Linked DNA regions of Homo sapiens. The protein of the gene in region 2 interacts with the protein of the main gene of each other region in a pairwise test. Each region holds a gene or a part of one and is shown on either strand. Other genes may lie near its edges.

Region 1 (6,985 bases), on a different chromosome or scaffold from region 2:
AGAAGCAAATGTGCAAGGACAGAAGAGATGTGAGGGACAATAAGAGAGGTGAGGGCTGGATGAGAGATGGTTTCCAGGTGTCTAGCTTGGGGGACTGGTACAGAACACAGGGGATGTAGTATTTTAGCATGTGATAGGGGTAAGATGTGGGGAAAATGTGAGTTCAGTTTTGTACATGTTCAACTTTGGGTGCCTGTGGCAACTTCAGAGGGCCAGGAGGCAGCTAAATATGCAGGTTTGAAACCCAGGACAGTCTGGGCTGGAGAAATCCAAGGAGTCACAGCTTGAAGCCAGGGGAGTGGTGAGATAATGAGGCATAAGACAAGAAGCGGAGACTAAGGAGGACCAACATTTAAGGAACAGGTGGAGGAACAGGGATGGGCCAGTGAAGGAAACCAAAAAGGAGTAGTCAGAGTGTCGGGAAAAACAAAACCAAACAGAAGAGCTGAGGGACTGGTCAATAGGGCCAGATGCAGCACAAAAATCAAGCTGCATCAGAACCGAAAACTGCCCGTTAGGTTTTCTTGCAACATGGTGGCCTAAGGACTTGGGCTAAACTTCCTCCTGAAAACAACTTTAAATACTAGACTCTATCTATCTTTAAAATTAAATGCATCCATAAGCTAGCAAAAATGTAAGAAACACACTGAGGCCAAAAAAGTAAATGAAAGCAAGAAGCTACAAAGGTAAGCAAAGCTCTGTCATTGGCTTTCATCTTGAGGGCAGTTGCCGAACCCAGAGAACCTGATCATTGGTTTTCAAGGGGTCTCTGGGCTTATGAGAAAGACAAAGCCCAGGGCCCCCTCACCATGGGGAGTCTATTTAGAAACTTCTCCATAAGGCCAGGACCTCAAAGGCCAGTGTATGCCTACACTGTGAAGGTGAATTAGAAAGAAACCTGCCCCTGTCTGACCTAACCTCTCTCCCTCAAACCAGGGGACTACAAAGAAAACTGCCTACATCCAACCTTGGTACTAAGAAAGGGGAATAATCTCCCCCTGAGAATTCTTTTTTTTCTTCTTCTTCTTTTTTTTTTTTTTTTGAGACAGAGTCTCGCTCTGTTGCCCAGGCTGGAGTGCAATGGCGCGATCTCAGCTCACTGCAACCTCCACCTTCCAGGTCCAAGAGATTCTCCTGCCTCAGCTTCCCAAGTAGCCGGGACTACAGGTGCCCGCCACCACACCAGGCTAACTTTTGTATTTTTAGTAGAGACAGGGTTTCACCGTGTTAGCCAGGCTGGTCTCGAACTCCTGACCTCGTGATCCACCCACCTCAGCCTCCCAAAGTGCTGGTGGCATGAGCCACTGCGCCCGGCCTCCCGCTGAGAATTCTTAACTGCAAGCAGGCAGTCGTCTGGTTTTGCAGACCAAATTCACATGATTTTGGTAGGCTGAAAAACTTCAAAGTGATCATTTAATTTGACATGAACATGGATTGGTAGTGGTTCCAGGTGACCAACAAAAGCTCCCTCTCCTCCTCTGCTGAGTTTTGGGATGTTCCCTCCTGAATCTGCAGACCTCTCCCAGGGTTGCCACAGGTTCTTGCCCCTATAGGTCTACACTTGTTCCTTAGAGAAGAAAGAGCCCTTCTGGCTCCCAAAGACTTATCTGCCACTTGGCTCTGAGCTATCCTGCACTAACATCCAAATCTCCTGGAGATCACCTTTGGTCTGGCCTCCGGAAATGCCCCCAACTCTCCCCAGGGCCTACTTCAGTCCATCTGTCCTAAATAGTGTTTGCAAAGGATGTTCAGGAGTCATTGCTGTGAGACTGGGCTTCTTTCTCTGCCAGATCCCTGGAACCTCCAGGGATGAGGAGGAGCCCTGGATGGGAAGCAGGAAGAAAACACATACTGACTAAGTTGTGGTCTCTGGGCTGAGCCCCCCACCCCTAAAACCCCTTAACTAAAATGAGTTTCAGAAGAAGCTAAGGTCTCATTGCTAGAAAGAGGCATAAACAGGTTTTGAACTCAGGACTAAGTCCAGAATTTGTGCATTTAAACCCCACTCCCAACACCATCTCCCCTGCCCACCACCACCTCCACCAGTGAAACCGCCAGCCAGCACCAGGCCCAAGGTATTTCACACCCTAGGCACAGGCCTGGAATCAGTTACTTTATTTTGGCTTTCTATTTCCTCCTTCCAAATGTCTCCTGCCTCTCTTTCTTCCTTCAATTTGTCTTTCATGTTGCAGATTTTTCTAAAATGCAAATGTAATCATCATTGCTCACTTGAAACCCCATCATGGTTTCATATTGCACTTAGGATAATGTCCAAACTCCTACAAGAATCTATTGCCACCAACTTGTCTTTCCAACCTCATCTCTGTTACTCATACCCTTCCCCTTCCCCACCCCACATATATTCTCTTAAAATGAATATAAATTACTTACTATTCTTTCTTTTCTTTTCTTTTTTTTTTTTAGACGGAGTCTCACTCTGTCGCCCAGGCTGGAGTGCAGTGGCGTGATCTCAGCTCACTGCAAGCTCCACCTCCCGTGTTCAAGCCATTCTCCTGCCTCAGCCTCCCGAATAGCTGGGACTACAGGTGCCTGCCACCATGCCCGGCTAATTTTTTGTATTTTTAGTAGAGACGGGGTTTCACCGTGTTAGCCAGGATGGTCTCGATCTCCTGACCTCGTGATCCGCCCGCCTCAGCCTCCCATAGTGCTGGGATTACAGGCGTGAGCCACCGCGCCCGGCCTACTTGCTATTCTTTATTGATGAAGACTTGCTGAATGACTTAGAGTCCTACTGGATTTTGCTTACCAGCTAAATGGGCCCCTCTCCTTCCCAGGCTCTCTATTCTTCAAGCTCAGATCAAGTTTCTCTTCTCAGGGAAGCCTTCATGGACCTTCTCAGGCCTCAGCAGCTGCTGCCAATGCCAGCTTCCAATGCCAGCTTCCTCCATTTGAACAAAACTACGGAGCTCTTTGCACTTTTAATTTTTTCCTCTTCCCTGCTAGGGTAGCTGGCAGGAGTTAATAAACAATAAAATACAACTGGAGGGGTGACAGGCAGGAACTACCGGGGCCTGTGGCAGACCAGATCTATGGCATGGTCTGCCACCCTGTCTGTGTGCCAGGGGCAAGATAAGCCTAACTTTCCCCAAGCTCGATTTCCTCATCTCATCTGAAAATGATGAATAAAAATATCCACCTCAGAGCTATTAAGAAAACTGAACCTAAGGTAAGCAAAGTCCTGCTCCTAGCACTTAAATGTAAGCTACTCTTACTCTAGTTACACATAAAGTTACTTCCAAAAACCTTACGAAATTCCCCGAGCACTGTCCATGGTATGTGGTTTCCCGGTTGCTTATTGGGTGGTCCCGAGAGCCTTCCTTTTTTCCTTCCTGAGGCGTGCCAAGTCCCCTCTCCTCTTCTCTGGGTGGTGCTGACGCCTTCTTCCCAGGCTGCACCTTTGCTGGGCCGGAGGATGCCCCCGGCAGCGGAGCGCCAGAGTGACCAGGCAACCTCCCCAGCCTCCACCCTCTAGCCCGGGCTCCCACCTCCGTCCTCCGGCCCCTCGAGTCACGTCGTCCTACTAAGGAGTTGGGCCGCAGCGCCCCGCGCCGGTCTGACCCGGAATGCCTGCTCGCCGCGGTAGGCCGAGGACAGGCGGGGCTCTGCAGGTCCCCAACCCACGTGCTCCCGGCCTCCTCCGCAGGGCGCCGCCTTCCGGCTAGGCGCAACACGGACTACATTTCCCAGGGTGAACAGCGGCGGGGCCTAGACTCGGCCGCGGCCTGGGGCGGCGAGCCGCTCCACCGCCTGCTCAGGGGAGTGCGAGCTGGCGCGAGGACAGGGCTAAGGACCCGGAATGAGTTTCCGCGCAGTTCCGCTGGGCCGTGCCGGCCTGTACCGGGCCGTGCCGAGCCAGAACTGGCAGGAGTGGGGGCCTGAGTTGGAGGTGCCGGGGACAGGCGCTCGGGGCAGCCCGCGCCTTGCCGAGGTCCCTGCCCCGTCCCGGCCGGCCTGGCTTGTCTTGTCAGTCACTGGGGCGGAGGCAGCGGCTGTAGCGGGGCTGTAGCCGGGCGTTGAGCACAGCGCGGGCCAGGCCGAACGGAAGGGACCTGCCACAGCCCCTCAACTCCACGGACTCTTCGCCCTAGACTAGCGGAGCTGCATCTCCGCGCTTCGTTGGACGCCTCCGTAACCACGAAGGGCTCTCTCTCTCCCGTGACCCTCCAGCCCCATGACCTGTTCATAGCAGCCGAGAGCTCACCCAGGCGGGGGTGTTGTGGGTACAGGCCATCGACCCTGTGACCCCTCAAGAGCCAGGGACTCGGTTTCCCCCGCAGGCCTCCCTCCCCTGTGACTCCCTCCACACAGATTCTGGGGACAGAGCTGTTACCTGCCACTAGGATCCCCGCCTGAGAGCTCCTCACTGACGGCTCCCTCCTCGGAGTCCCCTTCATTGGGTCTCCTAAGAGCACCAATTTTGGTCTCTGGCAAGCCTCCCACCCCCAAACGAGGTGGGGAGGCCTCGGCAGCCATGCCCGCCCTGGGCCCCCCCTCACCCCACCACTCCCTGGGCACCCAAGCCGGGGTCTAGCAGGGGGCCAGCAGCCAAGGGGCTGGGGCAGGAGACAGATCAGGGCCCACCTCCCTGCCAGGGAGGGAGCAAAGATGGAGCGGCGGGAGGAGCAGCCGGGGGCTGCAGGGGCTGGAGCAGCACCAGCCTTGGACTTCACTGTGGAGAACGTGGAGAAGGTATGAGGGCTCTGGGGTGGGCACTCCAGTGACAGAGCAGAAGTTCTGGGGACTGTCACTGATGGCAGAGCTCAGGCCTGGGCTGGGTGCCCGCTGGTATGGTGCCCCCAGAGCACCTGGCATTTGCTCTCTTTCTGGGCAGGCAGTATTGCAGTGCCCTAATGGGCTATTTTTGTCTTTCCTTACAGGCAGGTCCCCTGTGGATAGATACTCTAGGGTCTTGGGATGGTCCCTTCAGGGTGCTGTGACTTAGCCTTCCGTCCAGACTGGCTATGTTCCAGCTCCATGGGAACTGCATGAGCAGTGCAGTAGGAAACTGGGAACCCAGGAGACCTGCAGCTCAGTCTCCTGGAATTATACTGATGCCAAACCATCCTGGACCTGGTTTTGTTGAGCCAAGGGCTCAGAAAATAATCTGGAACTAAAACAATCTGGGTTGTTTTGACTCTTTGGAGAAGGGTCCTTCCTTTATTGGATGGAAGCCAGACCAGTCCTGAGCAGGCAGGCCTGGGGCTGTCTCCCTTTGTTTTGTGCTGAGTCCAAGGGTCCTGGCCCTGCTGGGAGCCTTACAGGGCTCCTCCCTACTCGCCTGCCCACATAGCTCCCTGCCATGGCCCTCCCAGGCTCCCCGACTGCCCAGCCCATCTTTCTGAACTGCCTCTTTGGTTCTTTTCTGTATCTGCTCCCTACAACTTGAAATGCAGGAATGCATGCACCCTGGGATGAATGGGGAGATGGGGCTCCCTTACTTGAAAGCAGGGAATGATGTTCACTTGTTATCCTTAACCCCCGTTTGCCATAACAAACAATGAGGATGCATCTCTTCTGCCTGCTTTGGCGTCCCTGAGGGGCCAAACAAGGGCCAATGGCCATAACTGGCTGTCAGGGGTACAAATAGAGCTAAGCTTACTTGGATGGAGCCTGCTTAGGGGTCAGGGTCCTGGCCATACTCTTCCGCCCCTTGGAGCAGGGCAGTGTTGGCATGGTGGCGCACTGTTCCATGTGCTATTGGGAGATAAATCTCACTGTTTTCTTACTTCATAAAGTCCCGTTGGAATTGAGACCCCGGGGATTCTGCTAGTGGAGAGCACTAAGCTAGGTGTTTGCCAGGGCTGCAGCTATGGCCAAGGCTTCTCTGGATCAATTGGTTGGACATGTGCCCTCTGAGGAGTGTTCTCACCCTCTCCTCCAGCATGTCTGCCCCAGGGCTGCCTGGCAAAAGTCTTAGTCCTGCTCTGATTTCACACTGGCTTTGGTGCCAGCATCTGGACTGACCTAGGGATGATCCTGGGGGAGCTGAAAGGAGCTGTTGGAGTTGATGGGAGCAGCTGTGCCTGGGAGGGTCAAGTCCCCTCAAGCTGTTCCATGCCCTTCTCAGACTTAGCTTCATCCCTGTGAAGCTGTTCCTTCCACCTGGGCCTTGCCCTCAAGTGCCTCCCCTTTGGGGAGATCAGCCTCCTCTTTTTTGCTTTCCTGTGGAGATTCCCTCTCTGAACCCATAATGTTTTGCTGTAAGGAGAAGAGGATATGGTAGAGCATGGGCAAGGTTCAGGCTCTCAAGATATCAGCAGGACCCCAGGCCCAGGAAACACTGCAGAGCGCTGAGCTCTCCCTGCTCAGCCCCCCAGTCAGGGAGAGGGAGCAGCCTTGCAGGACCAAGTCACGCCTCTGTTCTGGGCTCTGGCAGGATCCAGAGTGGCCAGCACCTGCTCAGTCCTGTGCTGTCCTGCAGGCGCTGCACCAGCTCTACTATGATCCCAACATTGAGAATAAGAACCTGGCTCAGAAGTGGCTGATGCAGGCCCAGGTCTCCCCACAGGCCTGGCACTTCAGCTGGCAGCTACTGCAGCCCGACAAGGTACCAGAGATCCAGTACTTTGGGGCCAGTGCTCTTCACATCAAGATCTCTCGCTACTGGAGTGACATCCCCACTGACCAGTATGAAAGCCTAAAGGCACAGCTCTTCACCCAGATCACCCGCTTTGCCAGTGGCTCCAAGATTGTACTGACTCGGCTGTGCGTGGCACTGGCCTCACTGGCTCTCAGCATGATGCCTGACGCTTGGCCATGTGCTGTGGCAGATATGGTACGACTCTTCCAGGCTGAGGACTCACCAGTGGATGGGCAGGGCCGCTGCCTAGCCCTGTTAGAGCTGCTGACAGTGCTGCCTGAGGAGTTCCAGACCAGTCGCCTACCCCAGTACCGCAAAGGCCTGGTGCGGACCAGCCTGGCGGTGGAATGTGGGGCTGTCTTCCCGCTGCTGGAGCAGCTGCTA
Region 2 (6,395 bases):
TCTGAAGCTTTTTTTCTCCCTTAAAGGTGTTAAAACAATGAAACCTTTGAGTGCATCCACGGCAATCTTTGTATTTCTTTAGAAACTGCAGCTGTCTTAACAGTTTGAGTCAGTCTGTTCCTTTAAAAAGACCAGCAAGTACAAATGATACTAGCAATCCCATGATAAAGAAGCTATCAATTATAATAATCCCCTTACAATCAATCATGGATGTGGCTTGTCAGAGCGGATTTTTTCTCTGTCTCCTTGTACTTTCTGATTCAATTGAGAATAAGCGTCAAAATTCCACAAAAATGGGACTATGTTACATTTCCTCTAAGCAAAATAAAAGGAAAGGAAGAGAACGTAATCTCCTAATTGAAATAAAAAGATAAACCAAAAAAGAATATGAGTCGGTGGGGGGGGGGCGGTGGGAGGCTCATTCCTGAGAATAACAAATGCTACTCTTGAATTTGTTGGTTCAAGTAATACAGTAAAACAGAAGAGACGGCTCCACTTCACTTCAATGCTTGGAAGCTGAAAAAAGTACATATATTTTTTCCCCCTGAAATCCATGGACAAAAGTGGGACCAGGCCCTGCATATAGCTCTTTAAAGTCACAGACATATATAAGGTGGCACTTTCATGCCCTCTCAAAGACTTTCCTCACACTCACATAAGCAGGATTAACAGATAAGGAAATGATGCAGTCAGCGTGTGCCTTAAGTGGAAGGAAACCAACTACAAACTGGCGGATATTCAGTATCTCCTGAATGAGAAAGGGAAAACTGAGGAAGGTCATTCAGTCTCTCTCTCTCACAGTTTTAAGTTGAATACATTTGGTGGAGGAGGATGGGTGAAGAGGTAAGGAAATGGCACCTTCCTTTTATCTTAGAAATTGTTTTCAGGTAACGGACAAAAAGAAGCCGTGCTTAACATCCAGCCCCACATGCCCCTTTAAACAAGGCTTCATTATACATAGGAGAGATGGAGCGAGGCAGAAAATCCACAGCAGTTGTGCCTCTTTCAGGCGCACCCTGTGCTGCTACATTGAAGGCTCTTTCCTCTTACCCACAGTGACAGTGTGTCATTTAATCGGGATGCCAAGAGATCATTTTCATACAAGGCCAGCAGATGTAATTTTCTTTGATGCATGAATAGTTCATCATTTTGCTACTAGATGACAAGGTGATCACAGGGTGACTTTAGAATGCAAGTTCACTGTTTGGTATTTTGAGTTCTCAAAATGAAAAAAAGATTTATCAAATATAAATATCTTTAAAAAGTAACAAAAGTGCTACATATGTGATCAAGGAAAAAAATTCCATTAGTTACTGCCGCTTAAAGTAGATTAAACTTTACAAATATTACCACATCCATTATCAATATGGCTTCCAATTATTAAATAAATTGCCTGTAGCAATACAGCTTTTCACACCTCTCCAAGGACAGAGTAAAGAGAACAGCAAAGCAGTCCCATCGTGTTCTCATACAGCCACAATGTGAGTAGGAAACGTCCCCTGCTTTTCTCTGCTCCTATCTGGGCAAGTGTCTGCATCTGTGATAAGCAGCACAACCCCACTATGAAGTCCTCTAGTGACCTCTCAGAGTGAGGGGGCTTCCGTTTAATGGATACAAACACTGCAAGTTTTTTCACTCATTTTTGACCTTAGCTCCATCCTTGAAAGACTTTTTTGGTAGCAGGGAAAGGGGACACTGACAGGAGGCAAAGCAACTTCCACGATGACCTCCAAAACTTTTCCAGGCAGGCACTGCTAACTGTGCCGTGGAATGTACAGTGGTTCTGAAAACTGGACTTAGCATCCATTAGACATTCAGCTCATATTTTTTTTTTCCAATGCTCTCAAGCTGGGTTTTTTTTTTTTTTTTTTTTAATGACTTTTGGTTTTTGTCTTTGTTTTTAATCATGGTCCCAAAGGCAGAAGGCAGTATTTTATCTACTAAGTCACACAGCTTGTGAGAGGAAAGGATGTCTGTGTCAGGCATGTTAACTTCAAACAAAATCTGAGATCGGCTTTTTCCATTGACATTCTTAGCACAGCACCCAAAGAAGTATAATCTAGCCACAGTGTGGCTATAATGAGGCACGGCTTATTGCAGCTGGAAATCAATTATCCTCACGCTGAGGTGGGGATTCTAGTGTTCCTTTGACTCTGTGGATACTCCCCAAATGGTGTCTGTCATTCCTGTGCCACGACCTCAGCTTGCATCCTATCAGTCTTGGGGAAGGAAAAGGGAGTACAGACTAGTGTTACAAGAATCTAAAGGTACCCAAGATTTTACACGTAGTCTAATATTTGAGAACTGAGGGCTATCTAAATACCTGGAAGCACTTTCTTGGAATGCTAAGACGGAGCAGCAAGATTTTCTAGCCTCGGGGGCTGGGAGAGGGAAGTTTGGTTGGTTGGTTGGTTATTATTTACTGGGAGTTAATACTGAGAGAGTATATGCAAAGGCTGAGGGCACCATGCCATCTTCACAGAACAAGACCCTAACAGCTACCTGACATACAAGAAACTGCAAGTTATACTGTAAGAACACATGTTAAGGACCGAGGAAAGTCTGCTAAGGTGCTACGTCTAAACTAAGTTAACTTGTCATGTTTAACCTCCCTGATCAGTCATCATCCAGGGCCTCTGTCTTGATTTCGTTGGCTCCTTGTCGGGCCAATGCCAAGATAGTGTGGTTGACTGCTGCCATTTCCACAGCTAATGAGATGGGGTCTTGGTGGTCACTATGGCTCGTACTGTCATCCTAGATGTGCAGAAATAAGAAATGTTATTAGTGGATTGGAAGAATTCTTTAGTCACAGAGAGACATGCTGGGGCAAGGGGAGGCAGAACATTCGTGGGAGGAAACTGGGGGAGGGGCTCATGATAAAATAGAGGTAAATTGTATTTAAGTAGACACTGAATGGATATAGGTCCAAAGATTTTCAGTTGATAATCTTATGATTCAACAAGTAAAAAGCACAAAAAATGTTTTTCATCACTGAGAATTCTATTCATTCTATTAATAAGATTGCTGGTGATGATGATCAAACCTGCAGTGATTGATATAAAACCAACAATTTGGATCTTTCTGTTTGTAACAAATATAGCACTAATCACTGAAGGCCATACTAGTGAGCTATTAAATTCCAGATTGCTGCTCTTACAAATAGATTATTAGAATTCATGGTCCCTCTCTGAACTGAGAAAACTAGACAGAACTTACAATTACATCTTACAGATAAAAAATGCATTTTTGTAAAAAAAGAAAAAAAGAATTCTCCATTACAACAGGACACATGTCACTGCCAGAAACGGCTACGGGAGAAAGGGGAGGAAGGTGTCGAGCTCTCCTGCTGCAGGCAGCTGTGCAAGGGGAGCGGCAGGCGTCTTACCTAGAACTAGTGTGAAGCTGTCCTCCCCGCGCAGCTCAATGTGTTAAACAATAAAGCTGTGAAGGAAGCTGGCATTGCAGGATGTACGTCAGGCACTGAAGATGGTGTTACAAATAAGGGGTATGTTTCTCACCTGTCATCTTCAGGGGAACTCCGTATCAAAGAGCTTTGGAAAGGGTAAGTCCCTTAAGGAAAAAAACAAACAAAACATGGAATGTGCTGCCCTTAGGGCATCTGTAAAAAAAGATGGAAATGATCCATCTATGTGGGTAGACTGAAAAGAGGAATGTTTCCGAACAGAAAGACTTACAGAATATTCTCTTGGGGCTATTAACTAGAGTCCTAAATGGGAAAAAATGGTAGTTCTTCAGAAGTGTGGACATCATTGTTTCCTTCTGATGTTCACAGATTAGTTTTTAGAATTTACAAAGGGATCAGCACACACTTGCATGCATTCTAGGTGTGTGGTAAACAGAGGCTATTAAAGAACACATTGGACTATATGAGCTGGCTGAGGAGCAAGAAAAAAGCACAGACCCCAGAAAAATGAGCAGAAGTTTTCTTGCTGTGGTCTAGGGGAAGGTACCATGCGTTCTCTGCATATTCCAAATGGAAATTTAAATCCTATCAAAATTTTAATGAAATCTGTCAACATCTATGTGGGGGTCGAGGAGGGACTCCCACAGTCTTAGTTACTGAATTACTCCACGCAGTGGCTACAATTAAATACATTTTCCCCAAAAGCAATGCAGAATAAATCAGGGCGAGGTGAAGAGTCATGCAGGTATTGCACTTATGAGAGGATGCATGTGTCAGTGTGCCAGAGACTCTGGAAGAACCACTCCTTTGGGCAGGAGGGTTCCCACTGCAGTGGGGCCAGAGTGAGTGGGGCCTTCCATCGTGCCCTGCGTCGGTACGTGTTTAGGCATGGGGTCCAGCTGCCCCTAGTATTTCTCAAACACTGAGTGTGTGTCGTGAATGGTGTAACTTGCTTGTTTGGATCAGATCCTCCTCTCTTCTTCTACCTTCTCTGCTTCTCTGCCTCCCTCTGAACTTCTTCCCTCCTCCTCCTCCCCATTGCGTACTTGCCAAGTATCCTGTTGTATGACAATAAATCCATGTGGGTGAATAACGATCTCTCACAAATTCAACAGGACAACTGAATCTTACCACATTCCTTTCAAATTACATGAAATCTAACTAGACACAGGAGCAGAGTGGAGGGACAGTGACTGTTTCCCCTCCCCCACCCCATCAGCCACACCCAAGGAACTAAGCTGTCCCACTATACCCCCTGCTCAGGCACCAAGAACCTCGCCCAGCTGCGCAGGGGCTCACCTGCTCAGAGTAGTCATTCCCGTCGACATCATCACTGTTTGAGTGGCCTCCTGGACTCTGCACATCTATCCCATGACTCTCCAGGATTGCTGCTTCTTCGAAAAAAGCAAATAGATCCCTAAATTATCTGTTACCTTATCACAATGGCTGAAACACTGAATGAATTTTTGTGCTAAGGAAATTAATTAGAATGTAATTAAACAAGAACCTGTATTTCTCTACATTTGTTTCTTTTAGACTGTAAGATGGATGAAATTCAACTGCATGTAGGTCAGGGGAGGCACACATTTGCCATTCTGGGGTCTCTGCTGCTGTGCATGTTAGGTGCTTCATAAATACTTGCTAACTAACTAAACAGTCTTCCTATCTTGGGGTTCTATAGAGCATATGAGAACTGTACTGATGAATAAAAAGTGTATTTACAAAGGAAGGAAATGAAATGCATTCTATGCCCATACCACGCTCAATGCGCCCGATCTCGTCTGATCTTGGAAGCTAAGCAGGGTCAGGCCTGGTTAGTACTTGGATGGAAGAAATGAAATGCAATTTTAGAAGCTAAAAACCAACATCCCACCTGACTCACCAACTTAAATTTCTTATTCTTATTTATTACTGTTACAGTTTTGAATGGGAACAAATCCTTTATTTCTTCCTTTTTCAGTTGTATTCGTAGTTCCCTCTAGGGCACTTTTGGCATTTTTGTTTTCTCTGTTCAGCTTTATTGAAATATAATTAATAAAAATTGTATATATTTATGGTGTACAAGGTGATGTTTTGATATGTGTATATATACATAAATGATTACATCAAGAATCCATATTTCTTAAATGCTCTTTATCTCTGCCTTTTGCTGCGTTCCTTGTCTATTAAGTCTCTTTCATTCCAAACCATTAATCAATTGTTTCCTAATATTTAAGTCATAGTCCAGTAATAATGAAGAAATTCTGGGTATTACATTCCCTTTCTCAAGATCTTACAAGTATCTTTCAAATGTACCACAGGAGTAATCAATTGCTCAGGGGCCATGTCTAATTCTATATTCTAGAACTTTAAGAAGAATGAGTTTTATAAATAATAATGTCATTACCATTACACTACAAATAGTGTAAATAATACTAACTGTGGTTTATTAAAAACACAATGAAAGACATTAGGGCAACTTTTGTTAGGCTTAGAAGTTAGGATCCGGCACGGTGGCTCACACCTGTAATCCCAGCATTTTGGGAGGCCGAGGCGGACGGATCACCTGAGGTCGGGAGTTCGAGACCAGCCTGACCAACATAGAGACACCCCATCTCTACTAAAAATACAAAATTAGCCAGGTGTGGTGGCACATGCCTATAATCCCAGCTACTCGGGAGGCTGAGGCAGGAGAACCACTTGAACCCAGGAGGCAGAGGTTGCAGTCAGCCAACATCGCGCCACTGCACTCCAGCCTGGGCAACAAGAGTGAAACTCCGTCTCAAAAAAAAAAAAAAAAAAAAGAGAAGTTAGGATCCTTTAGACTTGCAGTTTCTAAACTGAAGTTAATCTTAATATAAACATGACGTTCACAACTGCTGCACAAGAGAAAAGCAGCCTCACTGATACATTACCAATATTGGCTCTCCTCTTGATCTCCTTCCTTCTGTTAGCAAACCAATTATATACTTTCAGGGAGGTAACTCTTTCC
Region 3 (7,027 bases), on a different chromosome or scaffold from region 2:
TGGCATCAGAAAGTGTTGGGATTATAGACGTGAACCACTGTGTCTAATGTCTAATTCAACTGTTTTACTTCACTTCTCCATATGCACATTCTACCAGTGCACTCTAACTTCAAGTTGAGTAAGAAACAGAGAAAGTAGCTATGAGTTGCCTTATGTTTCCAATCCCTTGTGTGTGATCATTTTCAACACAAGTGGTTGGCTAATAAGAGGAACTTGAGCAGGAAATGCGTTGACCGGGTTCCTTGGCTGTTTATGCTAAGACATTGTCTTCTGAGTTCAAATCAAATTCTGGGTCCAAATGGACAGTGGTGTCTCTTGGGGCTGTCAGTGTCCCAGATCACTCAGATGTAAATGTGTTTAATATGGAAGAGGAGCACAGAATTCTGGTGAACCCACAATGTGCAGTGAAACTCAAAATGAGTATGAGGAAAGTTATGGAAGTTGAAGGGCAAGCATCACAAATACCATTTACAAAAGGATAGGCATATTGCATGTATCTTCCCTGTGCTGGACAAGGGTTGTGTGCAGCTATGTAGGGCACATGCTCATTAAGCTGGCCTTAATTGTGAAGGTTCTGTGGTAATGAATGGTGGAAATGCTATTCCTAAGGAAGGATGGGCCATCTCTACACACCCAGATGGTCTGTGGCTGGGAGCATGGCAGAGGCAATCTTGGGCATCCATGGAGATGTTCCGGTGTCATTTTTCAGGATCCCAGATTTTCCTTACGAAGGGTCTGACCTCTACAAAATAGACATGCATTGGCTGAGCATTCCAACATCTGTAGAGCTCTGCTACAGGCCTTCAGCCCACATATTTGGGCAATAATTCTGCCTTCTATCCAAGAAGATAAAGGCCTTGTAAGCACTCACCAGGGAGTCCTGGTTTACTTAACCATTAACTGTTTGCTAATGGCTGAATGAAGTCTTCAATTTCTCAAGGTCCTTCTGCAGGTGGTAATGCAGATCGGCGATAATCAGTCTACTCTGCTCTTTGTAGGCACTTTCCCTACATTTTCAAAGGCCTGCATCATCACATCTGCCACAGCATTCTCTATCATTGAGGCATTTTCTCAGGAAATCACCTGTGAAATATTTTGCAGCTAACCACCTACCTGTGCCCCACCAGCCAACATGCTTTACTCCTGCCAGGCAGGTGAGTGGTCCCCAGATCCCTATTTTACCACTTGTTTTGTCAGACTGTTCTTGGTATCAGCTGTGTTGGAGGGAGTTCTCTGCAAAGACCAATATGGGACTGCATATACAGAGATTTTATTTCCAGATATGACTGTGAGAGAATGATGAGGGGAGCAGTTACTTAGTCTATTTGAGCTGTTATAATAAAATACCACTGACTAGGAAATGTATAAAGAGGACTTTATTTTCCCAGAGTTCTGGAGGCTGGGAAGTTCAACATCAAAACATCAGTAGGTGCAGTTGTCTGTTGAGGGCTCATGTCTGTTTCCAAGATGATGCCTTCATGCTGCATCTTTTGGAAGGGAGGAGCATTGTGTCCTCACAGAGCAGAAAATAGAAGGGCCACAGGACAAACTCCCTCTATCAAGCCTTTTCATAAGGGCACCTGATCCCATTCGCAAAGCTCTATCTTCGTGACTTGACTTAATCACTTCCCAAAGGTCCCACCTCCTAATACTTACACTGTTTCAACAGTAAACAGTTTATGTAGAGTTTCAACATAAATTAAGGAGGGGACAAAACATCCAAACCAAGGAAGGCTGGGAGGGAAGCCAGAGGGAAAGTGCAAGAGGAGGTTTGGTGGAGGTGTCCTAGATTGTTTGCAGTCCAAGGAGGTTGGGGAGAGTGTAACAGGCCTGCCTTGGTATCCCTGCTCTGCAGTCACTGGCTAAGAGCAGTCCTTAGAAAGCACAGCCTGGCACAAATACAACAAGAATATGTGCTCAGTAGGAAAGAGACCACATTTCCCCAATAGCCCAGGTAATGCCCTCCCCTCAACTGGCATCTCTGTTCCCTAAACATTGACCTCTTTTCTCTGAATCTCTTGGGGACACATGGGTTGAATTCAGGTTCTCTGTAGCCCTCTGGATTCTGTCTGCCTCTGTTATATCTTCACGAACAAGTTATGCAGCCTCAACTAAAGCTTGTAACAAAGCAAAGTTACTCTCCTGAGTGTGTCCTCTGATGGATGGTGAGATATAACTTCAAGATGAAGCCTCACCCACACTCCCTGTACAAAAACGCTTCTCACGTAAGTGTCTCTTTAAGTGCTTACTGTAGTATGACTTATTGCTAAACTTTCGTCCACACTCTTGGCATTCATAAGGCCTCTCTCCTGTGTGTATTCTTTCATGCACAGTGAGGTCTGACTTACTGGTATAGCCTCGCTTACACTCCTGGCAAACAAAAGGCTTCTCCTTTGAGTGTATCCGCCAGTGGTGTCTGGTGAGACTTCTCTTCCAGCTGAAGCCTTGCCCACACACATTACACACGAAGGGCTTCTCCCCTGAGTGTGTCCTCTGGTGTGTGAGGAGATTTCCCTTCCAGTTGAAGCCTCGCCCACACTCCTTGCATACAAAAGGCTGCTTGCCAGAATGTGCAAGCTGGTGTTTCACAAGATTTGACTTCCAGATAAATCCTTGCCCACATTCACTACAGATGAAAGGCTTCTCCCCTGAGTGTGTCTTCTGGTGGAAGAGGAGAGTTGATTTTAGGATGAAGCCTCGCCCGCAATCCTTGCAATTAAATGGCCTTTCCCCCGAGTGTGTCCACTGATGTCTAAGAAGATTTGCCTTCAAACTAAAACTTTTCTCACACTGCTTGCACATGAAGGGCTTCTCTCCTGAGTGTGTCCTCTGATGTATGGTGAGATTTGGCTTCAAGGTAAAGCCTCGCCCACAATCCCTGCAGAAAAAACGTTTCTCACCCAAGTGTGCCCTCAGGTGCTTGTTATAGGAGGACTTATCCCGAAACCTTCGCCCACACTCCCGACATCCATAAGGCTTCTCCTCTGAGTGTGTCCTCTGGTGTAAAGTGAAGGTTGACTTTTGGATAAAGCCTCGTCCACAGTCCTTGCACACAAAAGGCTTCTCCTCTGAGTGTGTGATCTGATGTTTCACAAGGGTTGACTTCTGAATAAATCCTTGCCCACATTCTCTACAAACAAAAGGTTTCTCCCCTGAGTGTGTTCTCTGGTGGTAGACAAGAGTTGACTTTTGGCTAAAGCTTCGCTCACAATCCTTGCACACAAAAGGCTTCTCCCCTGAGTGTGTTCTCTGGTGTCTGAGGAGACTTCCTTTCACGCTAAAACTTTGCTTACACTGCCTGCACGCAAAGGGCTTCTCCCCTGAGTGTGTCCTCTGGTGTGTGATAAGGTGTGACTTATTGCTAAAGCCTCGGCCACACTCCTGGCATCTGTAAGGCTTCTCTCCTGAGTGTATTCTCTTGTGCACAACGAAGTATGACTTATTAGTATAGCCTCGCCCACACTCCTTGCACACAAAAGGCTTCTCCCCTGAATGCGCCTTCAAGTGCTTGTTGTATGAGGACTTATCGTTAAACCTTCGCCCACACTCCTGGCATTCATAAGGCTTCTCTCCTGTGTGTGTTCTCTCATGCACAGTGAGGTATGACTTACTGGTATAGCCTCGTCCACACACCTTGCACAGAAAAGGCTTCTCTCCTGAGTGTGTCCTCTGGTGTCTGAGGAGGTTGGCCTTGAGGCTGAAGCCTCGCCCACACACACTGCACACATAGGACTTCTCTCCTGTGTGTGTGTTCTGGTGCAAGAGCAATGCTGACTCATCTCTAAAGCCCTGGTGACACTCCCTGCATGTAAAAAGTTTCTGCCTGGAATGTGCTTTTTTGTGTATGATTACCATCATCTTCCGGCTGAAGTCTTGCCCACGCTCTGCACACTTGAATGCTCCCCATCTTGAATTTTCTATTCCTTTCAATACTTTGTCTATTTCTGTAGGATTTTCCCTCTGGCCTTGACTAGACTCTATTTCCACTACACTGTTCCTCCTCCTTGAGCTTACTGCATGTCTTAGGGGTGGGCTGGAAAATGCCATGGGCTTAGTGCTTTTTTCTTTCTCTTGACCTTCAGCTGTGTCACTCTGGAAGCTTTGATCAGAAAATTGTAGTTGCTGTTGCCTCTGATGTGCAAGTCCAAGATTCTTGGGCCGCAGGACATGTTCTGCATATATTCCTGGAGAATAGACCAACAATGAGACTGAATCAGTAACGAAAAGTCTTCTATGAAAGAAAAACCCAGAACCATATTGCTTTACTGCTTAATTCTAATAAACTCATAAAGAACAACAAACACCAATTCTTCTCAAACTATTCCAAAAAATTGAAGCAGGGCAGGGAGGAATTCTTCCTAACTCATTCTAAAAGGCCAGCATTATCCTGATACCAAAACCAGACAAGGACACAGCAAAAACAGAGAACTACAGGCCAATATCCCTGATGATGCTAAATGGAAAAATCCTCAACAAAATACTAGCAAAACCAATGCAACAACACAGAAAAGATAATACACCATGATCAAATGAGATTTATCCCAAGTATGCAATCATGATTCAACATACACAAATCAATACTTGTGATACATCACATCAACAGAGTGAAGGACCAAAAGACATATGATCATCTCAACAGATACAGAAAAAGATTTGATATGATTCAAAATCCCATTATGATAAAAACTTTTTTTTTTTGAGACAGGGTCTCACTCTGTCACCCAGGCTGGAGTGCAGTGGCATGATCATGGCTCACTGCAGCCTCGACCTCCCAGGCTTACACGATCCTCCCACCTCAACTTTCCAAATAGCTAGACTACAGGTGCCTGCCTGTAGTCAAGCCATAGGTGCCATTGCCTGGCTAATTTTTATATTTTTTGTAGAGATGGGATTTCGCCATGTTGTCCAGGCTGGTCTCAAATTCTTGAGCTCAAGCAATCTGCCCATCTTGCCCTCCCAAAGTGATGAGATTAAAGGCATAAGCCACCGCACCCAGCCTATGATAAAAACTTAAATCAGGTGTACAGGAAACATATCTCAACATAATATAGACAATATGTTCCAAACCCACAGCAAACATCTTAGTGAATGGGGAAAAGATAAAAGTCTTTCCTCTAAGAACTGGAAGAAGATTCGAATGTCTACTTTCACCACTCTTATTACCATAGTTCAGGGAGTCCTAGTCAGAACTATGGTAAGAGAAAAAAATAAGGCAAGAAAAGGAAATAAAAGGCATCCAAGCTGGAAAACTGAAGTCAAATTGTCTCTTTTTGCAGATGACATGATCGTACCTATAGAAAACCTAAACACTCTTCGAACTGATGAATGATGTCAATAAAGTTGCACAATATGAAATCAGAAAAAAAAATCAGTAGTGTTTCTATATGCCAATAATAACTAGGTGAAAAAGAAATCAAGAAAGCAATCCCATTTATAATTGGTACAAAAAAGTATATGAATAAACAACCCCAAATTAAATGTTCTCTATGATAAAAACAATGAAATAAATAGACGAGGACACAAACAAATGAAAAGACATCTTATGTTCATGGAGCAAAATAATACTGTTGAGATGACCATACTGCCCAAAGCAATCTACAGATTCACTGCAATACCTATTAAAATACCAGTGATATTCTTTATAAAAATAGACAAAATACTCCTAGAATTCATAAGGAACCAAAAAGACCTCCAATAGGCAATAGTGAGCATAAAGTACAAAGTGGGAGGCATCATACTACCTCACTTCAAAATATAATACAAAGCTAGTGTCATCAAAGCAGCATGGTATTGGTCTAAAAATAGACACTGGCCAGGCACAGTGGCTCACACCTGTAATCCCAGTGCTCTGAGAGACTGTGGCAGGCGGATTGCTTGAGGCTAGGAGTTCGAGTCCAGCCTGGGCAACACGATGAGACCCCATCATTACAAAAGGTTAAAAAAAAAATTAGCTGGGCATGGTGGCACATGCCTATAGTCCTAGCTACTTGAGACACGAGGATCACTTAAGCCCAGGAGTTAGAGGCTGCAGTGAGCTGTGATGGCACCACTGCACTCCTGCCTGGGTGGACAGAGCAAGACCCTGTCCATAGAAACAAAAACAAAAATGAAATACACATAGACCAATAAAAGAGAATAGATAATCTACAAATAAATCCATATATTTATAGCCAACTGATTTTTGACAAAGGCACTAAAAACATACCTTAGGGTAAGGACAGAATCTTCAATAAATGGTATTAGAAAAAGTGAATTCCAAAATGAGTAAGAATGAAGTTAGATGTTTGTTTCTCATACTATACAAAAATAAACTCAAAATAGATTAAAGACTTAAACATGAGTTCCACAATTATAAAACAACTTGAAGAAACACAGGAGAAATGCTTTAGGACACTGGCCTAAACTAGCCATATTTTATGGCTAAGACTTCAAAATCACAAGCAACAAAAGCAAAAATACACACATGAGACTACATTAAACTAAAAACTAAAAAGCTTCTGTACAGCAAAGGAAAGTATCAACAGTGAAGATACAAAATGTAGAATGGGAGGAAATATCTGCAAAGTATTCATCTTACAAGGGACTAATATACAGAATATACAAGAAGTCAAAAAACAACAACAAAAAATCCAACTAAAAAGTGGGAAAAGGATCTGAATAGACATTTCTCAAAATAAGACATACAAATGGGCAACAGGTATACGAAAAAATGCTCATCATCACCAATCATCAGGGAAATGCAAATCACACTGAGAGATCCTCTTACCACAATTAGGATGGCTATTATCAAAAAGAGAAAAAATAACAAATAATGGCAAAGATGCAGAAAAAAGGCAATAATTATACACTCTTGGTGTATAATTAGTACAGCCATTATGGAAAATGGTATGGAGGTTCCTTAAAAAACTACAAATAGAACTACGATACAATCCAGCAATCCCACTACTTCATATTTATCCAAAGAAAAGGAAATCAGTATGGCAAAAGGATACCTGTACCCCCATGTTAACATTATTCACAATAGTCT
Region 4 (7,027 bases), on a different chromosome or scaffold from region 2:
GTGCGATCACAACTCACTGCAGCCTCGACCTCCTGGGCTCAAGCAATCCACCCACCTCAGCCTTCCAGTGTTAGGATTACTAGCCTGAGCCACCGCACCCAGTCAACTTTTCTAACAGCTCAAGTCACTCTAATTTAAATGCATGAGGAGAATATCTAGGTATTTAAAGTTCGCCACGTATTTTCACCTGAGTGATGCTTCCCTTCCTAAGGCTGACCAAGACCAGTTCATCCTTTTAAACTCAAAATAAAATGACACCAGTGAAGGCGGGAGGAGCACCCTATCAGGGTGAAGGCGGGAGGAAAACCTCATTCGAATGAAGGTAGGAGGAGCACCCATCACAAAGCCTTGCCTATCTGAGGTTCTTGTCCGTGAGGCTGAAGTCCAGGCTCTCGTAGTAGAGGAGCTCCTCCTAGAAGATCTGAAGCAGTCAAAGGAACCAAACCGACACAGGCCGTCTGCCTGCTGATCACAGTCTCTTTTAAGACACTTTCTACTTTGCATTCTGATGAACCTAGGAGTTTTGTTAAACAGATTATGCGTGTATTTATCCCTCATTTCATGCAATAACCAAAAAGAGTTATCAGGAAACCCTGTTTGTCTTTTCACCCCATGTATGAACTCTCATGTGAATGAGTCCTGCAGTAATCCATGTTAAGGGAGCCCTAATTTCAAACTGGTGCAAATGGAAAAGACTTTCCCTTTTCCTTTAAGACTAAAGACAAAATGTCCTCCTGGCCGGGCTCGGTGGCTCACGCCTCTAATCCTAGCACTTTGGGAGGCAGAGGCAGATGGATCACGAGGTCAGGAAATCAAGACCATCCTGGCTAACATGGTGAAACCCCGTCTCTACTAAAAATACAAAAAATTAGCAGGTGTGGTGGTGGGCGCCTGTGGTCCCAGCTACTCAGGAGGCTGAGGCAGGAGAATGGCGTGAACCCGGGAGGTGGAGCTTGTAGTGAGCCGAGATCGTGCCACTGCGCTCCAGCCTAGGTGACAGAGCAAGACTCCGTCTCAAAAAAAAAATGTCATTCTATACAGGTGCAACTCAATCCGTTAATAAAAACTGATGTATGCTGGAGAGAGGAAGTGAAAAGAAAAAATAGGGCTGGGTGCGGTGGTTCACGCCTGTAATCTCAGCACTCTGGGAGGCCAAGGCAGGCAGATCACCTGAAGTCACGAGTTTGAGACCATCCTGGACAACATGGTGAAACCCCATCTCTACAAAAAAAATACAAAAATTAGCCAGACACCGTGGCACACACCTGTAGTCCCAGCTACTCGGGAGGCTGAGGAACGAGGATCGCTTGAACCTGGGAGGTGGAGGCTGCAGTGAGCCGAGATTATGCCATTGCACTCCAGCCTGGGCAACAGAGCGAGGCTTCATCTCAGGAAAAAAAAGAAGAACAGAAAAGAAAAAATAACAATAAATCAATGTAAGGCCAGGCATGGTGGCTCACGCCTGTAATCTCAGCACTTTGGGAGGCCGAGGCAGGCAGATTGCTTGACCCCATCTCACCAAAAAATAAAAACATTAGCAGGGCATGGTGGCACATGCCTGTGGTCCCAGCTACTCAAGAGGCTGAGGTGGGGGAGTCGCTTGAGCCCAGGAGGTCGAGGCTGTAGTGAGCCATAACCATGCCACTGCACCCGTCTGAGCAGAAGAGCAGGACTCTGTTCAGGAGATTCTCCTGCCTCAGCCTCCTGAATAGCTGGGATTACAGGCGCGCACCACCACGCCTGGCTAATTTTTATATTTTTAGTACAGATGGGTTTTCACCATGTTAGCCAGGCTGGTCTCGAACTCCTGACCTCGTGATCTACCCACCTCGGCCTCCCAAAGTGCTGGCATTACAGGTGTGAGCCACACACCCAGCCCTGCCTGTTTTTCAAAGTGTTTATTTACCGCTGTTATTATTTAATCATAGTATATCAAACTTACAAAAAAACAGATTATAACCTTAAAACTATCTCTTTTAGCCTGGCGCAGTGGCTCACGCCTGTAATCCCAGCACTTTGGGAGTTCGAGGCGGGTGGATCACCTGAGGTCAGCAGTTCAAGACCAGCCTGGCCAACATGGTGAAACCCCGTCTCTACTAAAAATACAAAAATCGGCCGGGTGTGGTGGCAGGTGCCTGTAATCCTAGCTACTCAGGAGGCTGAGGCAGGAGAATCACTTGAACCCAGGAGGTGGAGGTTGCAGTGAGCCAAGATCACCGCACTGCACTGCAGCCTGGGCAACAAAGCAAGACTCCACCTCAAAAAAAAGGGGGGAAAAAAAAGAACTATCTTTTTTACTTGAAATTTTAATTTTTTAAACCACTAGAATTATAAAAGCAGTCCGTCCCTGAAGGCAGATTCTGTTCTGTCCACAGGGAATAAGGAAGATCCTCTTTCTCTAAAATCTCTAAAACGCTGCTCAGATGGGGTCTCATCTCCCTTCCAGCGTGACTGGCTGGCCTGAAGCATAACATCCTCAGATGCTCTAGGTGGGTCCTACACCGGAGCCATTGGTTAGTGCACACCATAACCAACTAGACTCAGCATCCCCGCCCACGGCTGCACATCAAGAAGCTTCACCATGGGCCAGGCACAGTGGCTCGTGCCTGTATTCCCAGCTGAGGCTGGGAGGAGGCTGAGGCGGGAAGATCGCTTGAGTCCAAGAGTTTGAGGCTACTGTAAGCCATGATCACGCCACTGCACTCCAACGTGGGCAACAGAACAAGACCCTGTCTCTAAACATAAAATAAAAAATAAGAAGCTTCACCCTCATCTACACAGAATTCAAATGCACAGCTGAGGCCTCCTACATGCACCCAGGGGTAGTGCCCAGGGCCTAAGAACAGGGCTGCCAGATCAGCTGCCTCTCAGACCACAGCAAGGCAGTAAACCCGGTTTCAGGCAGCAGTCAGTACTGTATTGAGAGCCTGCCCCTCACAACCACCCCAGAGGTGGGTCCAGCACCATGGTGCCAACAGGCCAGGCGCACTGGGAGCTCCTCCACTGGTGGCAAGGTGGCCTGAAGCACCAGCATCTCCTGGAGACTGGGAAACCCAGACTGCAGAGACCGCGGCCAGGAACACTCGTCCAGGTTTGTTTCTCTCTCTCTACTCGAAGCTGAAATAATAGTTTATTCCCAAGTTAGGAAAAGAACAGAACCACACAGTACGCGGTTTAGCTCCAATACATGCTTTCAAATATTTAGGTCGAGTTTTCTTCTCAATCAGCCCTGGCCACTTCAGCCCCCATGTCCTGCATGCAAACACTGCCTCCTTCAGTCCTGCCTACCCAACATCAGGAGCCAAAGAACAGAGAGCGTGCGGCCCGGCCAGGCCCGGCCTCTCCCAGAGCAGGTCATCATCTGGTACTGGCCAGGGAAGGGAGCACTTCAGACTTTTGGCTCTTCATTTTGTTAGATCACATTTTGTTTATTTTGCTTCAATTTCAGTAAAGCTGAAATTTTTAGACCTCTTATACAGAAGCTCTTAATACAAACCCTAGACTTTTTGACTCATAGGTAGAAATCCAAGCAAAACCATCTCTTCAAAGTCAGATTAATTTACAAAGACAAACACCTTGGTTTTGACAGGGTTTTCCCTGGATGGGAAGGATTATGAGCATTTTTTGTTCATTCTGTCTGAATTGACTAATTATCTGAGTATTTACAGCTCTGTGAAAAGAAACTGGACTTCACTTTGGTAAAGTAGAGTAATATTAACAAAAATCACTTAAAACTTCTTTTTTTTTTTTTGAGACACAGTTTCACTCTGTCACGCAGGCTGCGGTACAGTAGCACAATCTTAGCTCACTGCAACCTCCCAGCCTCACCGCCCGATGCAGCTCAGCCTGCATGCGTCCCACCTGTGCTGTCCTCCCCTCACATGTGGGGCAGGTCTGACACCTCAGAGGGTCCTGCTCACTGACCCCCGGCAGTCCTGGAGGGTCTGTGTGGTACTGGGGCTCTAGGCGTCTCCCCCAGCCAAGCTGCAAGCTCAGCACCAGGCTGGCTCTACCCGCCCTGTTGACCGGCAGGCCCCATCTGTGCTCACAGCTCCTCCCCTTGTTTGGCCACCCTTTCCTCAGGGCATCTGCAGCAAGTGGGGGGCACAGCACGGGAAACGGGGCCAAGGCCACAGCAGTGGATGTCCCGATGCCGGCAGTCACTGGGAAGCCCAGGCCAGAGCCCCTCGGGTTGAAAGTCATACAGAGTTCCTGCGTGGGCTTCATTCCTTCTTAAAGTTTAGTCACTGAAATTCTTAAAAATCTTCACGCACGGCTGGGCATGGTGGCTCACGCCTATAGTCCTAGCACTTTGGGATGCAGAGGCAGGCAGACTGCCTGAGCTCAGGAGTTCCAGACCACCCTGGGCAACATGGTGAAACCCCGCCTCTACTAAAAATACAAAATTAGCTGGGCATGGGAGCACACGCCTGTAGTCCCAGCTACTCAGGAGGCTGAGACACAAGAATTGCTGGAACCTGGCAGCAGAGGTTGCAGAGAGCTGAAATCGTGCCACTACACTCCAGCCTGGGCAACAGAGCAAAACCCTATTTAAAAAAAAAAAAGGCTGAGCAAGTGCTGTAATTCCAGCACTTTGGGAAGCCAAGGCGGGCAGATCACTTGAGGTCAGGCGTTTGAGACCAGCCTAGCCAACATGGTGAAACCCCGTCTCTACTTAAAAAATACAAAAATTTGTCGGGCATGGTGGCGCACGCCTGCAGTCCCAGCTACTCAGGAGTCTGAGGCAGGAGAATTGCTTGAACCCAGGAGGCGGGGGTTGCAGTGAGCTGAGATTGCGCCACTATACTCCAGCCTGGGCGACAGAGTAAAACTCCGTCTCCAAAAAAAAAAACATAGAAAACTACAGATTATTCCAAGCCTACAGACTAAAATCTTTTACAACATCTATTCCCCAAAAAGACGTGGTAAACAAGCAGAACCACACTTCAGGGGAATATTAGGAAGCTGCGCCAACTAGAAACGCAATGACCACACAGCACGGGCCCTGCAGGCTGTGCCCACGTCCTCCCAGGGTCCCACACTGCAGGCTCCTTGTGGACTCAATGCTTGGACACGCTTACCTCTGCGGGGGAATATAAGGAGCGCACACGGTCGGCAGGACCGCGCAGGGCTCAGCCAGAGCTTTCTTAGCCTTTTTTGCCTTCTTCCTGACCTTGGATGTGGACCTGACCGTTTTAACCGAGCTCTCTTTTCGACAGACGCCATTTTTCATTTCGACATCCCCGTAAATATTCAGAGGCCTCCGGGTGCAGCCTGGAGGCGTGTGGACATCACAGTAAGCGGTCTTTCTGACGGAGAAGGTGGTGCCACCGCCAGTCAGTTCCTTCACGGGCTCCATTTTCATGTACAGGCCAGCCTTCTGGGCACACGTCACATGGAATGCTGTGTAGCAGTTTGCTTTGTGGCACTGGATGCAGGCACCCACGCCCTTCTGCTTACAGAGGTAGCATGTCAGTTTCCACCGGGCTGGAGGGATGTTCCTCACCCCATCGATGGGCTCGATGAACACCGTGTTGGCAAAGCCGACCTCTGGGATCCACAGGGCACACACCACGTGACCCCAGCGGTCGTCATCTGTCTTTTTGAAGGCACCACCCTTGTTGGGGCACAGCACACAGTCGGCGGGCCGGGCCCGCGACTGCAGGCAGTGGCGGCAGAGCCACTGGCCCTCGGGGATGTAGGGCACCCCGTAGCACTCCTGGTGCACGGCCAGGTTGCACATGTCGCAGAAGAGGATCACGTTGCTGTTCTGACACTCCCCGTCCATGCAGATGCAGCACACGGCGTCCTCGTCGATCAGAGACTGCTGCTCGCCCTGCTTCTGGTTCTCGCAGTGCGACTCCTTCTCGAAGCGGTCCATCAGGAACTCAAACATGCTCTGCGACACGGCGGGGACGCAGTCGCCCTTGCGCTTCTCATTGACGATCTCCAGCCAGGCATAGTCCTCCTCGTCCATGTCATACTCCACCTCGTTGTCCAGTTCCTCGGCCGACTTCTCGATGAACTTGTAGTACACAGGAGGCCTCCTGGGGGCGGACGGAGGGCTGTACTCCACGATGCGCACCTTGGGCTCCGGGAGGGCACTGGCCGAGGCCGGCGTGCCGTGGGCGCTGGGGAGGGCCTCGTTTTTCTTTTTGACTCTGTTGTTTTTGTGACGCTTAGTTCTTAAGCAGACAGGAGGCCGCTCGCTGTTTTCCTTGTTGCTGTTGCACTCACTCATCTCTTGAGCAGTGAGGTCATCTTCCAATATGATCTCCAGGGGATCAAAAATACTGATCCTGTGCAAGCGCCCTTCAATTTCTATCTCTACCATCCTTTGAGCTTGAGCGTAGGTCAGCGTTTCTCGCGTAGGGGAGTGTTTAACACTGCATGGGGAAGAAGGATGCCTCGCTGCAGAGCCTCGATGACATCGTCCTTTCCTCCTCATTTGGTAATGATTACCTAAAATGAAGGCAAAAGTAAAGGTAATTCTACGCAGGGTGACCAAAGACTCGAGAAAACCACAAAAGCATGCTTGGACAGATCTAGCTCAGCAGCTCAAAGCCCAATCAAAGCAAAACTCACAGCTAACCTCTTTCCAAGGTGTCCAAAACCACACATCCAGGCCTGAGCGAGTCCCCAGGACCAGGGAGGGAGCAGCAGTAACAGGCAGAGAGGCAGCCTGAGGAGCCCTCCTGAGCACCTGCGTCCCTACCACCACACACCAGTCCCCTCTCAGACCACACCAACAGGCTGCGGAGACCACAGCAACGCTCCCCAAGGAGGAGGGGTCCGGCCCAGAGCCCACAGTTGCAGGACTTTCCCAGCATGCAGGCGGTCCCCCAGGAAGTCCACATACAGGGCTGGACCCCACCAGGCACAGAGGCTATGCCCACCAGACAGGCATGCTCAGTGGCTACCTGGTCCTATCGGATGCTCCCCCTAAACCACTCTTCCCCTCCCCACTACTCCCAGGAGAGCACTCCCATGAGCCCAGAGTCACCACAGTCCTTGCAGCATTCCTGCT

What was found.
Region 1: the proteins of HMBOX1 (region 2) and IPO13 interact in binary tests that used the Homo sapiens proteins (3 or more experiments, as listed by UniProt).
Region 3: the proteins of HMBOX1 (region 2) and ZNF337 interact in binary tests that used the Homo sapiens proteins (3 or more experiments, as listed by UniProt).
Region 4: the proteins of HMBOX1 (region 2) and BRD1 interact in binary tests that used the Homo sapiens proteins (3 or more experiments, as listed by UniProt).

The regions. Positions count from the first base shown.
Region 1 is NC_000001.11:43,942,975-43,949,959, forward strand, and holds the start of IPO13 (importin-13), read left to right. Parts: upstream 1-3,975; 5' UTR 3,976-4,626; coding exon 4,627-4,710; intron 4,711-6,442; coding exon 6,443-6,985. UniProt on the Homo sapiens protein: Functions in nuclear protein import as nuclear transport receptor. Serves as receptor for nuclear localization signals (NLS) in cargo substrates.
Region 2 is NC_000008.11:29,047,377-29,053,771, reverse strand, and holds the end of HMBOX1 (homeobox-containing protein 1), read right to left. Parts: coding exon 6,319-6,395; intron 4,819-6,318; coding exon 4,724-4,818; intron 4,483-4,723; coding exon of another isoform or gene 4,387-4,482; exon of another isoform or gene 4,378-4,386; intron 3,571-4,377; coding exon of another isoform or gene 3,544-3,570; exon of another isoform or gene 3,386-3,543; intron 2,755-3,385; coding exon 2,617-2,754; 3' UTR 510-2,616; downstream 1-509. UniProt on the Homo sapiens protein: Binds directly to 5'-TTAGGG-3' repeats in telomeric DNA. Associates with the telomerase complex at sites of active telomere processing and positively regulates telomere elongation.
Region 3 is NC_000020.11:25,672,854-25,679,880, forward strand, and holds the end of ZNF337 (zinc finger protein 337), read right to left. Parts: intron 5,222-7,027; exon of another isoform or gene 4,185-5,221; coding exon 2,179-4,184; 3' UTR 342-2,178; downstream 1-341. UniProt on the Homo sapiens protein: May be involved in transcriptional regulation.
Region 4 is NC_000022.11:49,817,870-49,824,896, forward strand, and holds part of BRD1 (bromodomain-containing protein 1), read right to left. Parts: exon of another isoform or gene 6,858-7,027; coding exon of another isoform or gene 6,593-6,857; exon of another isoform or gene 6,463-6,592; coding exon of another isoform or gene 6,449-6,462; coding exon 5,082-6,448; intron 3,118-5,081; exon of another isoform or gene 2,965-3,117; intron 515-2,964; coding exon of another isoform or gene 353-514; intron 1-352. UniProt on the Homo sapiens protein: Scaffold subunit of various histone acetyltransferase (HAT) complexes, such as the MOZ/MORF and HBO1 complexes, that acts as a regulator of hematopoiesis.